Linked DNA regions of Homo sapiens: all the other regions are linked to region 3. The links come from fine-mapping of genetic effects on gene expression. A gene starts in region 3. Each other region holds a variant in brackets. All regions are shown on one strand. Distances are between the middles of the regions.

Region 1 (4,220 bases), 120 kb before region 3:
TTAGCAGTGCTTTTGCCAAAAACAATGAAAGCCAAGAGCATCATCGTAGACTCTGTTACCAGAATTGGCAGGTTGATGTGTTTCCAGACATGGGAACAAAGACCCCAAATTCCAATGAGTCTGGAGAAATTTTCAATGGCCATCTTTGTAGTGTTTTGTCAGGAAATGAATGATTGGAAGGCACTTGTGTGGCTGCTGCTTGGCTTTTACCATCAACACCACATCCCACTGCCATTTATGGCCCCCACCTCCAAACTCCCAGGCCGAGTGGGGTTGAAAATTTGGAATTTGTACCCAGGAGGTAGAATGGGGCCACTTTAATAATTATCTGGTCGGGATGATTTTCTAGAGGATGCTGATGAGGGTGGTGTTGGGGAGGAACCAAGGGGATGGCAAAAGAGCAAGTGATTTCTGCTTTGCATTTAGTAGCAGTTACTTCTAGACCCAAACAACTTATTTGCAACTTTCAGAAGCATGGAAGGATGGGATTGTCATTGACTTAGTGTTTCTGTGCCTCGCATTCCTTTCTGTAAAATTGGGGCAATCCAGTGCCTAACTCAGGCTAGATGGGAGAATTACATGAGATAATGCATGCACTGTGCCTAGCACAGGGTAAGTGACCAATAAATATTAGGCTTTTGTTATTATTACACTCCCGGCTGCCTTGCAGCTTGGGTCATTCTGGGTCCCCATCCATGCCCACTCTTCTGCCCTCAGGGACTTGTGGCCTTCTTAGATTATATCTAAAATCTTTCCTGGGCTAACATTCTATTACCCAAGCCTATTCCTCTCTGTTTATAGGTGAAGAGAGAAACTGATGCCCAGAGAGGTGAAGTGACTTGTTCAAAGTCACAGTTAGCAAGTTTAATTCTGTTGCTGCTCTTACGTATTAGTTACCTATTGCTGCATAACAAATTACCCTAAGATATGGCATCTTAAAACAACTAACATGTATTATCTCACGTGGTTTCTGAGGGTCAGGGATCTGGGGGCAGCTTGGGTTTATGGTTCTCTCATCAGGTTGCGGTCAAGATGCCAGCTGGGGCTGTGGTTTCTGAAGACTTGACTGGGGCTGGATTTCATCATTTCCAAGATGACTCTGAAGGATAGCAGAAAATGCCACCCCAAAATATGCCATTTTGGCTTAAGAATTATTTTGAGCTGAAGGCAAAGGAGGAAAAGCAGATAGATACAAGAAGAGTTATCTGCCCTCCCTCTACTTGCCAGAAACACGATGTAAGTTTGTAAAGGTGCCCTCTCTCTTCTCCCTACCAGGAAGGACAGAAGTTAGTCACTAGAGACAACAGTAGACCCTTATAAGCCCAGAGAGGGCACCAGAGAAATCTTCATTAAAAACCTTACCAATGAGTCCTTCTCTTCCATTAGCCCCCACATGTATTTGCCTTTCCATAATTTGCCACCCCTAGAAGCTCAAAGTCCTTTTCCTTTGTCTTATCACTTCTCTAAAACTGTATGGTTCTTTTGTTAAGATGCAATATAAGCCCAAGTTCTAGCCACCCCTTTGTGTTACTCACTGGGTGTTCCCATGTGTATGTGTCATGCACATGTTAATGCAATTCTGCTTGTTTTTCTCTTGTTTATCTGACTTTTATCAGTCTAATTTGCAGAGCCCAGCCAACCAATGAATCTAAGATGGGTAGAGGGAAAACAGCTTTTTCTCTCCAGCAGCTTACTCAGATGGTTGTTGTCAGGAAGCTTTC[A/G]TTCCTTGCCTGGGAGCCTGTCCTCAGGGCTGCTCAGGACATGACTTCCCGCAAGGCACGTGATCCAGGAGGGAGTGCAGATGGAGGCAGCAGTGTCTTTCATAAACTAATCTCGGGAGGGATGTGCGGTCACTACTCCCATCTGTGATGGGTCACACATACCAACCCTGGTACACTGTGGGAGGGGATCATGCAAGGTTCGTGACAACCAGGAGGCCAAAATTATGAGACACCGTCTTGCAGGCTGGCGACCACCCCCCTTTAAGTTAAAGACAAAGTCCTTAACAGAGAACTGCTTAACTTATCAGCCTCCACTCATAAAATACTCCTTTTGATCTCTGGGCTTTGGTTTACACTGGCCTTTTTTCAGTTGCCACACACACCACGTTCCTGCCCAGCCTGCCTTTGCAAGTGTTGCTTCCCCCATGCCTGGAACACTAATGTATCACTCCATCTATTAATATCCCATCAATTCTTCTTCATCCTTTAACATTCAGCTCTGGCAACACTTCCTCCAGGAAGCCTTCCCTGCTCCCTTAGCCTAGGTCTGGGCTTCTGGTCATATGCATTGTCTTGGTTGAAATTGAGTCATCAATTATTGAATGGATGTCTCCCTTACAGGAGTATGTGGTCTGACTTGCGCTCTCTGGGTTACAGGCAGGGAGCACGGATCATAGAGTCATGCTTAGATTCCAGGTTTCTTCACTCAGAATCCTGGATCCAGACTCTTAATAACCACTTTTTAATCCTCATTCCTAGAGGGAGAAAAATAGCTGTTATTGTGCCTTGTCCTTATACAAGCCTCTTTTCTTTGGTTCTAAAAATAGAGTGGTAGATTTTCCAGACTAAGCATTGAGCCTATATTTTTGCCTCCAGGCCCCCTACATTGGCCACTAGAAAGCATTTTTTTAACTGTATATTATTTTATTCCCTCATCAATTTGATTATTCTTTGTCAGCCAGTACAGAATTTTAAAAATCACCAGCAATACTCTTTGTCACAGGCATTCTTTGGAGACCCAGGTCTGCTTCTAGAATACATTGGGAGGAAGAATTGGAGAAGATAATTCTTTCTTTTTACCTGGCCTTGGGGTTTGGCATACTGAGAATCGCTTGGGACAGTGGGGATGTCTCAACTTTAGCCTAAAATGGAATTCATGTCTGCAGAAGCAGTGACGGGGGGTTAGCGGAGATCAGGAGGTGATTTGCAGGACAGCTCTCCCACCCTTAACACGGAGGAACCAGGGGATGGGGAGGAGCCCTTGAAGTCAGCCATGCATTTGAGTCCAGTGGAAAGGAGGCTCCTAAAGGAAAGAATGAGAAACTGTTTACACAAGAGTCTCTGTGACTCTTGAGGGCACAAGGAGGCCCTTTTGAAGGTCTGGGTGACCCCATGTGATGCTGAGGGGAGAGGGACAATCTCCTCACTTCTGAATGGACCAGAGCGGCCTGCTGGCACTTAGAGCAGCTGTGGGAGCAGTGGTAGGTAGCACCCTTGCCGTGGACATTGGCATTCTTGTGAAGGACTGGCATCCACGGCCGCTGGGAGGCAAGCATTGCCAACTCCTGGGGGCCTTCAGATGCAGGCAACATAGGTGAGTGAGGTGGGAGAAGAGAAAAATCCAATGGTTGCAACTGGATGCATTGTGTCTAATGGTGACTTGTTGGTTTGTGAGCACCTGAGAGACACTTCCAAGGGATGCTGGGATACAGGAGACTGAGATCTCATGGGGGCGTTGATGTTCCCTAGGATCCTATGGGAGAAAGAGCAGTGAAGTGTGGGAATGGCTGTGATAGGTGACCAGTTGCTACCCACAGGTCAGAGACCTGAGAAACTCAGCTTTATGTAGAATAAACCCACTGAAGTTAGAAGCTTAGTGGACTTTAGAGATCACAGAGCTTAACACTTCACTTTACAGAGGAGGAAGCTGAGGCCCAGAGATGAAGGTTAATTTTCCCAGAGTTGATAGCTAAGATGGAGATCTGAGTTCTAGCCTTGCTTCTCTTGGTACCTCAGGGAGTTTGAGGGAACTTACATATATCACTGATATTTTCTTGAGGCCACTGAGACTTGGAAGTGTGCATTGATGCTGATGCCAGCAAGTTGTCACCAGACTGGGTGACTCTATGTGGTGTGACTGCAGGGACAGACAAAAGCCAGCCTGGGCTGGGTGTTGTGGCTCATGCCTGTAATCCCAGCACTTTGGGAAGCTGAGGCGGGTGGATCACTTGAGGTCAGGAATTCGAGACCAGCCTGGGCAACATGGTGAAACCCTGTCTCTACTAAAAATACAAAAATTAGCTGGGTGTGGTGGCATGCGCTTGTAGTCCCAGCTACTCAGGAGGCTGAGGCAGAAGAATCAATTCAGCCCAGGAGGTGGATGTTGCAGTGAGCTGAGATCAAGCCACTGCACTCCAGCATGGGCGACAGGGCCAGACTCCATCTCAAAACAAAAACAAAAACAAACAAACAAAAAACCAGCTTGCCCAAGATGTCTCT
Region 2 (4,000 bases), 39 kb after region 3:
AATCAAACACAAGAGGATCAGGAAGAAACAAAATAGGTTTAACAGAATCTCTGTAATAGTGAAAATATCGACAGGTTGACAAGGACCACAGGGAAAGCACAGTATGAAACAAATGGTAAGTAAAGGTCCAACAAGTGGTGGGTGATTCAGTGAAGAGACAGCAATGCAGAGTGGTTACCACGGGCCTTGTAGGAACATGGAGCTGAGTTTGATTTCATTTCTTAGTTTCTGTGTCATCTTGCACAAGTTGTTCCATTTTTCTAAGCCTCAGTATCTTCATCTGTAAAATGGGCATGTTATCATACCTGCTTCATAAGGTTGTTGTGGGAATCTAACCAATCATGTAAGTACAGATACAGTTACTGTTTGTTGGCTTTGTGCAGGGTACTGTATTTTTACAATTTCATCATCATTTTCTTCATTGTCACTTCACTCAGTGGAAGGGGACTATGTGATAAGAGATCAGTACTCATTGTTGCAGAACATGAAATCATCATAGTTGTGTGTTTCTGGGAAAGACAATAAATTAAAAGGTGCAATATGACACTTACAAGAAATACGTACTCCCCTTTGTTTTCCTGAAGTACAAAGTAGGATCAGGTTGGAATTTCCCGCCTGTCTTCTGAGGCAAACAAGAGCAGTTTGGGGGCCTCGCTGAGGGGGCTGGTGTCCTCTGAACCAGCAGGGTAGGCATGAGTGGACAGGCTGTGGCTTGTACTTCAGTGTCCCTCTGATGTTTTTAAAAATTGACAGCTATTGAAGATTTTTCGGGCTGTTCTTGGTGGGACTCAAACTCAAAGAGAAAGAAGGGGTGATCTTTATGGGTAAGGTAACTGGGATGTCTAGGGATTCAGCAGGCTTTGGATACAGCAGACAGAGGGCTGAAAGGCTATCTAGACTTTGCTACTCTCCCCATCTTTTGGTTGGGTTTTCTTCTGGGTTGTTGTCCTTTCAGGCAATGATGGGTTTGGCAGCTCAAGACTTACAGCATCCTCAGAGAAAATGATTTCAGCAATGGAAAGTGCCTCTTTTCTGATACTTCTAGGAAGAGGCCCAGAGAAGAGTCTCATTGGCTGGGCTTCAGCCACACCCATTCTTGGGCTGACCACTGTAGGAAAGGATTGCTCTGATTGCCCAGTCTGGATCACCGTGTGATGACAATCACACGATGGGATGACATGGAAAAGGTGGCTGCCCAAAAAGCTGCCCGAATGATGAAAATAAGAGAAAAGAAACAAAGGGATGAAAGGAGGAAAATATATGTGGCTACTGCAAACTCTTAAAAAAATCTCATAATTGAGTAACTTATACCTGAGCTCTGTAATACTTCACTCCAACTTAGTTTGTCAAGGAGTTTTCTTTTCTTTTCCTTCTCTTTTCTTCTACCTCCATCCCCACTACGTGTAATTTTGTCAGATGTTGTCTTCTATTGCCTGAAACTTTAGCAGTCACTGTGAATCCTGTTTCTTTAAGCCCAGGGTGTCATTGGGAGCATAACAGTCATCCAGTGCAGCTCAGCTTCTCCCTACAGATTCTAAAAATACCCAGAGGCACTCAAAACAAACAGCGAAGCACTGAGGCACTGCCCGTGCAGACACCCACACACTCCCCTCTTTAAACTGCCTTAGCGCTGTCACTATAGGGAGAATCAGCAACTCACGCAGCCCTTTTATTTATTTATTTTGTTTTTATTTATATACCTCTTTATGCAGAAGAGATGAGGGGTTCCTGATGGAACAGAATTGATTGGAAGAAAGGGAAAGAGGGAGACAAACAGCAAAAGTGTTTGCACTGTCTTTTTGCAGCTC[G/A]CTGTAGACCTGAACTAAGATGTATCGAGAGATCAGACCAATCCAGGGAGTCGCACAGATTAGCTGGGATTTAAAATAAAACTCTTTAACAAGAGATCACCTAGAATAACTCGCACATATGCATCCATGAAGAGGCCCAAGGACCACATTTGGAGAAGGTTAGTGCTCACAATGACCAGGGCTACAACCTGGCTTATTTTTCAGAAGCAAAGCAAAAGCCAAGGCCTTTTCCATGGAATCTTTAGGTGGAGTCGAACCACCCAGAGCATCAGGGTGTTCTTATGTCAAGGAGGTGTTTCATTTCACAGGACTGCAGAGCTGAGGGTATTGGCATTGCATGCTGTGCATCTACAGTTTGGGAACTTGCTTAATGTTGATTGTCTTATCAAACCAGTGAGCTCTTGGGTTTTTCAAAAGCAGGCTGAGGGATTAAATGATAAAATCAGATGGATTATGAAAATATGAGAATCATGGGAATTATAACAGGTATGACCTTTTATAGATTGCCTGGGACAATCAGGTGTCTGCTTAACATAATGAACCTGACCCGGTATCAGCGTGCAAGTAAAGTCTTTGCAGTCGGTGGTTAAATGGAGTTTATTAAATATTGTTAGTGATAATCATGGAAAGGAGAATTTAAAATGGCCATAGCTTCTAACCAACTCTGGGGATGTCTGGATGACATTTGTTTTGGCTGTTGGGATTCGCCACGTAAGTAATTGATTGCCCAGAAGTTGTTCTCAGATCAAGCTTTCAATTGGCCGGTTTATGGCAGGATCCTGGGATTTAAATTAAAAAGTGAAGCCTTAAGGATAAGCATAAGTAAGTTCTTGGGACAGAATGTGCTTAGCATTGTTTCCATCCATAAGTGAGTGGAGGAAGCCTGCGTGCCCCGGACATATGCTTTTCACTGGGAAAGGCGATCAAATGTCTCTCTTCCTCTCTCCCTAGACTGATTCTCATGGAGAGTCCTTGGCATGTTCTCAAGCCTGAAGCAAAGGCTTCTAAGCTCCCAAATTGCTAGGTGATCTCTCCCGAGGAATATGTCCGAGGCACAGGTGCCATGTTCTTTGTGGGTGGGAGTTTGCTTACCCAGGATTTTATGTCTGGCTTAAAAAAAAGTCTGTATTGCCTATTGAAATTGCATTGTCTAAATGTGGCAAAGGATTTGCAATAGTTTTGTGAATCAGGGCAGTCTAAAAATTTTATTAGTAATAACAGTAGCAGCAGCAATAACAAAGGCTGGCATTTACATAGACTTCCTATGTGCCGGGCACTGCCCTCTGTGTCACAATTTTTCTTTTTTTTTGAGACAGAGTTTTGCTCTTGTTGCCCAGGCTAGAGTGCAATGGCATGATCTCGTCTCACTGCAACCTCCACCTCCCAGCTTCAAGCGATACTCCTGCCTTAGCCTCCTGAGTAGCTGGGATTACAGTCATGTCACCACCACGCCTGGCTACTTTTGTATTTTTAGTAGACATGGGGTTTCTCCATGTTGGCCAGGCTGGTCTCGAACTCCTGACCTCAGGTGATCCATCCCCCTCGGCCTCCCAAAGTGCTGGGATTACAGGCATGAGTCACTGCGCCTGGCCATGTGTCACAAATTTTAATGCATTTAATTCACAGACAATGGAGCTTCAGACTTACCCCTCCATCTTCTCCTTCCCCTTCCATGAGCTACATTTAGCCGCATTGGCTATGCATCCTTGCCAATCTGGCCAGGTATTGCCAACTTTAACTGCATCCTTATAGACAACTATTCATAGAGCTTAACTGAAGAGAACCACGGGTTATATATTAGTCTGGAGACACTCTTGCCTGTCACACTCTTGTTGCTTTTGTGAGCAGTAAGTTCAAGGCACAAGACTTATCAATCCAATTGAGAGCTTCAGTTACAGGCAGACTTATTTTTTCACCCTGTCCTTCTTGTCTCCAATGCATTGGAAAGGTTCTTAATCTTATACTAGGTGGTTCTTAGTTTTCATGAAAATTTTCAGTTATTCCTAAAGACACAAATTGCTGATGTGAATAAGGGTGAGCGCTTTCAGAGATAAAGATGCTAACAAATCAGTGCAGGTTTGTGACAATTTTAAACTGCTTCAGACCAGCTAGCATCAATATTTTTTCTTGGTATTTCTTCTGTTTTTGATGAACGATGTCTACTATGCAGCCACAAGCTAATACTGCTGTCT
Region 3 (4,187 bases):
TAGACAATTAGACTGTAAAGTTTGTATATGTGACAACTTCAGATACAAAGACACACACTTACCCTTGACGGGGCTTAAGAGGAGAGTGTCAAACATAATACCAAAGTGAAAGAAGATAGCTCTTCATCTACAAATTATTTTTAAACACATTTACCAGGTTAAACAATAACTAATTTTTCGGAAGAGAAGAGTACCCAAAGTCAAATGCCCTAAGACGAAGAGATGCTTATGGCATTTTTTTTTAAATAAAGAAAATGCAAAGTTAGAGTGGTTCTGAAGGAACCTAGGATGAATAAGGTACAGACATGATTATTCTAATGGTGCAGACAGGATTGAGAGAGAAGGGGGGAGGGGAGAGATGGAGAAAGGCATGGATGGAAGATGACGTTTGGATTCAGATTTTGGAAAGGAGAGTAAAGGAAGGAGGTAAGCAGAGATTTATTTTTTAAATTTTATTAATGTGTTTTCCCCTCTTTTTCTTGTTATTTTTCTCATCTGTCTGTTCATACTTGGATATTTTGTCCAATAAACTATCTTCTAAGGACTCTGAAAATGCACTGAATATTTTTGGAGGGTTTACTGGGTGCCAGACGCCACTTTAGGAGTTTTACATATCCTCTCCATTTCATTTAGTTCTCTTAGCACAGAGAAGTGGGAGAAGATAGTCCCATTTTACAGGTGGGATGAAGAGAGAGATGGAGGAATTTGCCCCAGGTTACTCAGCTAGAAGGTGGTGAAGAACTCAAGCCTTCGGATATCAGCGCCTGGCATTTAACTACCAATCGGTCCTGCTGGGACTCCGGCTCCTCTGGCACCATCCCCGGGACCTACTCAGAGAGTTTGCACGTGGCCGGTCGCGTTCCATCGTCTAACAAGGTCCAGCACAGCGCAAATCCGAAGATCGTCTACCCCGGGGAAAAAGAGAGTCTGTTTAATTCTCCTGTGGCCCTCCAAGTGAGTTCTTTTGGGTTCCATTGCCTAGACGAGGAAAGTGAGGCTTTGCCTGCTCTGCGCTCACAGGGTCGGCAAGTAGTGGGACCCTAGGTTCCTGCAGTATTCCAGAGATAATCAAAGCTGCACAGGTCTCGTCATTTTTATGCAAAGGCGTCCGGAAGGCTCGAACTCTCCCTTGCACAAGCCCATCTGTCTCTGTGCGCCGCCCCCGGGACACGGAAGCAGGCGGCGAGCAGCGCCGAGTGGGTGGAGAACCGTCCCCCGCCACTCACCCCTCGGCCAACTCTCCGCGCCTTCTCAGCCGGCACCCACGAGGCCGACCTCTCTCGGCCTAAAAAAAAAAAAAAAAAATCCCGGCCTCCCCTGCACCCCGCCCGCCGCCCCCAGGGAGCTGCATTAATATTAATCTCGCTGAATAATTGAAGGCCAGAGATTTATTCGAGCTTCGGCGGGGGAGGGAGCGCAGCTGGGCCGCGTTTAGGCTGCACCACCCGCGTGTTTCAGCCGCTCGACTCCGCTGGACCTGGGACCCCCAGACGTGGGAGGATGGGGTGGGTGTGCCTGCCTGTGAGTTTGGGGGTGAGTGTGAGCTGAAGCGGGTGCTCCGGGGAGTGAGGAGGGAGCGCCAGGGGCTGCTCCAGGGAGGCGGAGACGGAGGGGCATCCCGGGTCTCCGCGCGGTCGCCTGCGCTTCACCCCGCACGGGGTGACCTGGGGCCACGCGGGCTTCAGGGGAAACAATAGCTACTCCTTAGATCCTGGGCTCCTGCCACCGGCTGCCCAAGCCTTCCCGGACGAGCGGCGGGGCCTCTTTTCTTATTTGGCTAATTTATGGCGAGAGGCTGGGGGGAGGGATGGCAGAGGAGGGACCGCGACTGGAGATGGGGGCGGGGGGCGGCGGTTAAAGGAGTTGCCCGAGGCGGCGGCGCGGGTGATGTCAGCTCTCGACGAAAATAGAGAGGGATCGCCTGCAAATCCCCAGCTCCGGCGGGGCTAAACCTTGCAATCCCTCCCTGGCCGGCGCCGAGCCAGAGCGCAGCGGCCTCCACCGCCTCCCCAGGCGCGCACACACCCGCACACGCGCACGCACGCTCACCGTCCTCTGCCACCACTCTCTGCTCCCGCCACTCGCCGCGCCCGCGAGCCCCGCAGCAAAGCACAGGTGGCAGCGGCTGCAGGGGCGCATCGCCGGCGTGCGCCCTCCTGCAGCCCTGGGCGCATCGCTCTCTCGGGGAAGCCACCCTCGGAGCCCCCGGAGCTCCCCGCCAAGCGCCATCCCCGCGGGCGGAGGGGAGCGCGGGTCGCGCGCCGTGGAGAGCCGGGACGCGGATTAGCGCCCGCAGGAGCCTCCTGCGCCCGTTGAGGCGCTAAAGGGCTTACCCCGGAGGCGGGTGGAAGGGCGGGCAGAGGCTCCTCTTAAATACCGCTCCCGGCCGCACTTCGCGCTCACCCCGGCGTCCGCTTTCTCCCTCGCCCACAGCTGCCGGATAGTGCTGAAGAGGAGGGGGCGTTCCCCAGACCATGGCATCTACGGAAGGGTGAGGGGATTTTTATCTGTACCCGCGGGAAAGCGGGGTCACGCGCGGGGTGGTGGCGCCCCTATCCGGGATGCGGATAGAGAGGCGGCGGCGGCGGGCCTCGGAGGTGGTGGCGGAGCCGTAGCTTGGCTGGGGATGGGATGGTGGGGAGGGGATTGATTTTCTTTCCTGGAGATTGCTGCTTAATCCTTTGAAAATGCGAGAGGTGGAGGGTTGTTTTATTTTGATAAAAAGGGTAAGGTGCGCTGGGGGCCTGAGAGTGTGAGGAAGAAATCCTCTTGAGGTTACTTTTGGGATTTCAAAACAATAGGGGATTGGGCATAGTGTGAGCAGACACCGGGGTAGCAGCGCCTGGAGCGCGGCGCCCCAGGCCCGAGGCGGGCTTGCAGGTGGTGCCGGCTCGGAAGGAATGAGCCAAGACAGGGCCCTGGGGCGGGGCAAGGACCAGCGCGCGCGGCCTTGAACGCCAGGTTTGCAGAGTCGCCATGGAGATGCTGGGCCCGCTCCGATCGGTCCTTGTCCCTGGAAGGCGGAATCTCCCTGGCTAGCTCTAAGGAAGGGTGGAAGAGATTTGGGTGCTTCCCGGGAGGCGGGAAAACGTGTGGTTTGGGACAAGGGCAGGAGTCGCCAGACTCCAGCGGGCAGGGATAGCATTGGCTTCCCTATTCAGCCCGAGGATCTGGAGTCGTGTCCTGCCTCCCAAGATTCCAGCTGGCATGGGGAAAGCTCCCTCGCAGTGATAACTAAAGACAATTGTCTTTAGCAAGAGACAGAAGGGGCTGCAGGGGGCAAAAGGATTCTTTGAATACTCACACATCAAAGGAAAGGTCCACAGAGTCCTTGGACCAGTATCTCCCAGAAAACTTTTTGGGCTTCGTAGAACCTGAGTGGCAATGAAAAGACTGGGCAGCTCAGCCCTTTGGTTAATTCCCAAAATTGCAGTTACTCACTTGCAAGCGATCACAAAATCCATGTTATGTGAAAAGCAAATATCAGGGGCTTCTCTGGGCTCAAGTGGTGGTGTTGGCATTTTCCAGTTTCTCCTAAGAAATTTTACCAACTCCGCAGGCTTGTTTTAGGGGAATGGATCTCTAAACAGGCTGAAGAGCTGGTATCCAAAGCCAGATCTCTAGACTGCAATCTCCAATAGAAGGAAAATATTTCTAGAACTGTCTCTCTGTCCAGGAGAAGGAATTCATTCATTTTCTGTCCCCCAGAGTCCTTCCAAAGGCATCTGGCATCTTGTCATTGCATGAAATTTTGTCTCTCCCTTTGCCCTATTTTGCAGTTTAGACTTTTTTGATTATTATTTCTCCAAAAAGATGTTTCAGGAAGACACCTGTGTACAAGGAGGGTGGTACCTTGTGCTAAAACAGATCTCTAGAAATAGATACTAGGAGCCCATATGGATCAAGATCAGTGTCTTACCATGTTTAGTTAAAAAGGCTTTTATATTAGAAAAGATATGAAAGAATTTCTGGTTGCCTTCATGGACCTTCTAGACTTATCCTTGCTTGTAAAGGCTAGGGTGGAAAACATCTGTGAAAAAGATGGATGATATTAGTCTTCCAAATCCTGCATCCAGCTCACTCCCTATTTTGATGGCCAGATAGAGAAGGAGAGGTTACAACAACAACCCCAAACTAAGTAAGTTTATTTCACCTTTGTCCTAAATGAAAGCTGTCAAATGATGTGA
Region 4 (4,220 bases), 200 kb after region 3:
GATTTAGGTGGGTAACTTGGCAACTGATCTCATGACTCTTCTACCTGACAATCCTTAACGATATTTAGGGATTTATTTTGCACTGTTTTAGAGCTGTGCCATCCAATATGGTAGCCACCAGCCACATTTGGCTATTTGAATTTAAACTAATTACAATGAAATGAAATTAAAAATTCACTTCCTCAGTTGAACTAGCCATAGTTCAAGTGCTCAGTTGTGGCTAGTAGTTATATATTGGACAGTGGAGGTATAGAATATTTCCATCATCACAGAAAGTTCTATTGCATAGCACTGTTCTAGACAGCAGGACGAGGTTGGGTGAGCTCAGATTGCAGGAGCTAGACTGTAGCATAAGAGAAGGAAAATATTTCTAAATTATGGCGATGCGTAGAGAAGACCTACTGATTGGAGTGTGGGTGACTGCCTGCTGGGGTTTATAGAAAAGACGATTATTCCCATTAAAGTGAAGGCTGATGAACAGCTTTTATGTACAAGCAACATAGTAAAGTTCTCATGTTTTTTTCTCCTCTTTAGACAAATAAGATAGGTTTTTGTTTGTTTGTTTGTTTGCTTGTTTGTTTGAGACAGGGTCTCACTCTGTTGCCCAGGCTGTAGTGGCACTATCATGGCTCACTGCTGCCTCCACCTCCCGGGGCTCAAGCGATTCTTCTACCTCAACCTCCCGAGCAGCTGAGACCACAGGCATGCGCCACTATGCCCGGCTAATTTTTGTGTTTTTTGTAGAGATGGGGTTTCGCCATGTTGCCCAGGCTGGTCTTGAACTCCTAGGCTCAACTAATCCACTGCCTCGGCCTCCCAAAGTGAGCCACTGCACATGGAGTGAGCCACTGCACCTGGCCCAGATAGATTCTTTAAAGGAAAATCTTCTCTGGAGCCTCACGCAGTATCTATCAACCCAACTGACTCCTAAAATAATTATGTGCTCTCATGAAAAGGGAATAAAATATGATTTCTCTTGGAGAGCTGTAACTCAAGGAGTCAGGTGACATGAGGAACAGCAAAGAAAGCTGTTTTGGATGATGGCAGGGGTGGAAAAACCTAAAGAAGTAATAGAACCCCCAACCCAGCATCTTTAAGACAACGTGACTCACAGATCACTTCATCATGCAAGCCCATGACCCATCCTTGTATGTCAACTTCAGAGACTAATGATTTTCCACTTTTGTCTTTTAACCATAATTTATATAACAGTGTCTGGCACAGGGAATGTTCTCAATAAATATTAGCCAATTCAAATTCAAGAGGCCAATACTGCCACTAAACCTCAAGATTCTTTTAGAAAAGGGGTGGTACTCTTTTTGTTTTTTACCTTCTCTTTCTCCTTGCCAGGGCTGGTAGTCACAGGAGCCACTCAAAAGATGTTTGCTGAATAAATGAACACCTATTGGAGGCCCCATTTTCAACCAAACTTTCTCTGATGAAAATAGGATTCTGTATCTCTTTCTCTTAAATGTGACACTCAAAGCAGAAAAGCCTCAGCCTTTGAAGGGGATTAGAAATGGGTTGACAGCTTTAGAATCACAGAGCCCATTAAGGGGCCCGTACAGCTGTTCACCACCTTTTAGCTGCGTGGCAAATCTGTTTTCAATTATCAAATCAGGACATAGTAATTTATGGCATCCAAGCAGCTACTTTCCTGGTGAGATACTCGCTGTGCCGGACCCTGTGTGTCCC[T/C]GTTTGCCGGTTGCCAGGGTGACTGCTGGTCTTGGGAGGAGGGAGAGGGCAGCAATGAGGCCCCTTCTCTGCTGTCTGCTGCTGACAAGACACAGACGATGGGGGAGATACCCAGCCCCAATGTATGGACTCCAGCTGCTCTTAGGGACAGCTGAGATGCTTCTCCGAGGTCTCCCTAAATGTCGACAGCATCCATGCCAGCGTTTCTATGGTGACATGTGCAAAGCTTATGGACTGTGTATGTGAGCAAAAGTGGTGCATTCTAGGGCTTGGCAATAAAGGGCTGATTGCACACAATAGGAAATTCATATTTAATTGAGCAAAAGTAATCCAAGGGAAAATGAGGAAGCTGAAGGGAGGTATAAAGACTCTTTGTAAAGGCTCCCCCAAGTCACATTATTTAAATTCAACTAAAAAAAATCTTTCCATTCAATCATAGGCGGCCTTTTAGATTTTTTCTCTCAGTTTTGTTCCTTATACAATCAGGTAGCATAACTACTTTTTAAAACTATGCCCTCAATGGTATAGATAGCAACATAGCTGTTTGACTGTAACATGGCACTTTTATTAACTTGTACCAGCGTAATTATTGTAACAGCATCATTTGATTTTCTCAGATAATTAGAGACTGTATGGGCTGCCCATGGTGTTGGAATTAGCTGTTGGTTGCTTTCCAAAAACCAGTAAGGAGTCCATAATTCTCTCTAGGTCTTCTCCCAGACTGAGGGGCATTTTTCTGCCCTGTGAGGTGATCTGGGGACACAATAAAGGTGGTCCTGCTTGGAAATAAGTTTCTTTTACCTTATGAGAAACCATCTAAAGGGACATTTACAAAAGGCTTAATATTCCTATGAATTACGTCCTGGAGAAAAATAATGTATCTTTAAAGTGTCTTGGGTAAGAAATTTAGATTTATACTTTTATAAATTTAGATTTATACCCCTGTTAAAGGTCATTTCCTCTGTTGCTAGAATTACTATTGTGTATATATAATGTATGTGTATATATATATATATATATTATATATAAAATGTAAATAACATGTAAACCTATAGGTCTTGGTTCAGGTAGGGAGAGAGTGGCCTTCAAGAATATAAAAACAGCCCATGTGTCAGTTCTAGCGAGGTGACTGTCTTCATTTAGTTGTTTTCCAAAGGAAAGTTCTTCTCTGCTTCATAGACCTCCTAACAGCAAGAAGACGATGAAACAGTGCTCTTCTTATGCTATAACCTGAATCTCTTCAACTACAGTTCCCAGAAAATAGAAAATGATATCATTACAAAAACCAAACAACAAACAAAAGCACAAGGCCAATAAAAAAACAAACGACAAACAAAAGCACAAGGCCAATACTTCCTTCTGGTAAAAGTTCTTAAAGGTTCCCTGGGCCTCAGAGAGGCTACAGGGGATGATGAATCACTGAATCTTTATACGATATTTGTGCATTGTGAATGTATTTAATAAATATTTAACAAATCAATGAATGAGTATATACTTTTGTGTGCCTTCCTGGTGAGATACTTCATAACTTTCATCAGACAGAGTCTGCATGAGGTTTAACCCTAAAAAACATGTAAAATCACAAAGGATTCAACCACTACCTAAAAGTGATGAGCCAAACAATCACAGGTGTCTCCTGTCTCTAAAAACCGGGGCAGAGAAAGATGTCTTAAGCTGCACCATGCACATGAATCCCTGGAAACTTGTTAAGATGCAGACTCTGCCATAGGAGGTCTGGGGTTGGGTCTGAGATTGTGCATTTCCAACAAACTCCCAGGGTACCCAGGCTGCTGGTTCCAGGGACTACGCTCTGAGCAGCAAGGATATAAAGCCCAGGTTTAAATGATGCCCTTTCCAAGTTGAAAGCCCCCAGGACAGCCCCTTACCTTCTTCGACTGTTGACTGCAATGCAAACTGCAAGAATCAAAGCCAAGGCCAAGAGGGATGCCAAGATGATCAGCCATTCTGGTATGAGTAAATTAAATGACATGCGTGAGCTTCAGAGACACACTTTGTAAAAACAAAAATGCACTTTATAATTGACCTAGTTGAAACAAGCACCACAGTCAGCGCTGCAGGGGGGTCTGGCCAATAGGTCCAGCCAATAGGCAGGTAATTCTGGAAGAGCAATTTGCTGAAGGTATTTGTCCAACAGCCTTCTTGCTTTAATCTTTTATCATCAGTCAGGATTTTCAAGTCCCTTCAGGAGAACTATGTTTCTAAAAAAGGACAGGATGACTTGTTGAATCTTGTAGATGCCTTTGGTATAATATTATTAAACATATAAAAGGAAATGTAGGCTTCTTTTGAAAGGAACATTTTTTTCCTGTATAAGAGCATCCACCTATCCACCTTACATTGTATTAAAAAACAAAAATGGAGGCAATAAAGGATTGGTTAAATAAATTAGGGTACATCTATTGCATTACGCACTACAATATGAGGAGGAAATATTCAATGACATGGAAGCCATGGTTAACCAGTAGGCAATGTTTGCTAAACACCGTGTAAGGTGTAATCACATT

Alleles and levels. Positions count from the first base shown, and alleles are read on the strand shown. Sizes are in standard deviations (SD) of each study's normalised expression. Not every link is listed here.
As copies of A replace G in region 2, the expression in left ventricle of the gene that starts at base 1,883 in region 3 goes down (moderate effect, 0.42 SD a copy in GTEx).
For the expression in sun-exposed skin of the gene that starts at base 1,883 in region 3, allele T in region 4 goes with a lower level than allele C (large effect, 0.80 SD a copy in GTEx).

Evidence for each region. PIP is the estimated chance that this variant, and not a neighbour inherited with it, causes the effect.
Region 1: its variant is fine-mapped to the expression of SLC1A2 in fibroblasts (GTEx, PIP 0.97).
Region 2: its variant is fine-mapped to the expression of SLC1A2 in left ventricle (GTEx, PIP above 0.99).
Region 4: its variant is fine-mapped to the expression of SLC1A2 in sun-exposed skin (GTEx, PIP above 0.99).

The regions. Positions count from the first base shown.
Region 1 is chr11:35,537,539-35,541,758 of GRCh38, reverse strand. No RefSeq gene overlaps it. Among named protein-coding and RNA genes, the nearest start is that of PAMR1, 14 kb to the right of the region's middle. The variant A/G (reference allele first, on the strand shown) is at 1,722.
Region 2 is chr11:35,378,347-35,382,346 of GRCh38, reverse strand. The region is part of intron 1 of SLC1A2 (solute carrier family 1 member 2); the gene reads left to right. Among named protein-coding and RNA genes, the nearest start is that of SLC1A2-AS2, 39 kb to the left of the region's middle. The variant G/A (reference allele first, on the strand shown) is at 1,809.
Region 3 is chr11:35,417,254-35,421,440 of GRCh38, reverse strand. SLC1A2 (solute carrier family 1 member 2) reads left to right here and starts at 1,883. Exons shown (of 11, transcript NM_004171.4): 1 at 1,883-2,491. The coding sequence starts at 2,475. SLC1A2-AS2 (SLC1A2 antisense RNA 2) reads right to left here and starts at 2,384. Exons shown (of 2, transcript NR_186310.1): 1 at 2,334-2,384; 2 at 439-905. RefSeq lists an enhancer at 1,737-2,237.
Region 4 is chr11:35,221,094-35,225,313 of GRCh38, reverse strand. CD44 (CD44 molecule (IN blood group)) reads right to left here. Exons shown (of 18, transcript NM_000610.4): 17 at 3,582-3,660. Among named protein-coding and RNA genes, the nearest start is that of CD44-AS1, 8.2 kb to the right of the region's middle. The variant T/C (reference allele first, on the strand shown) is at 1,696.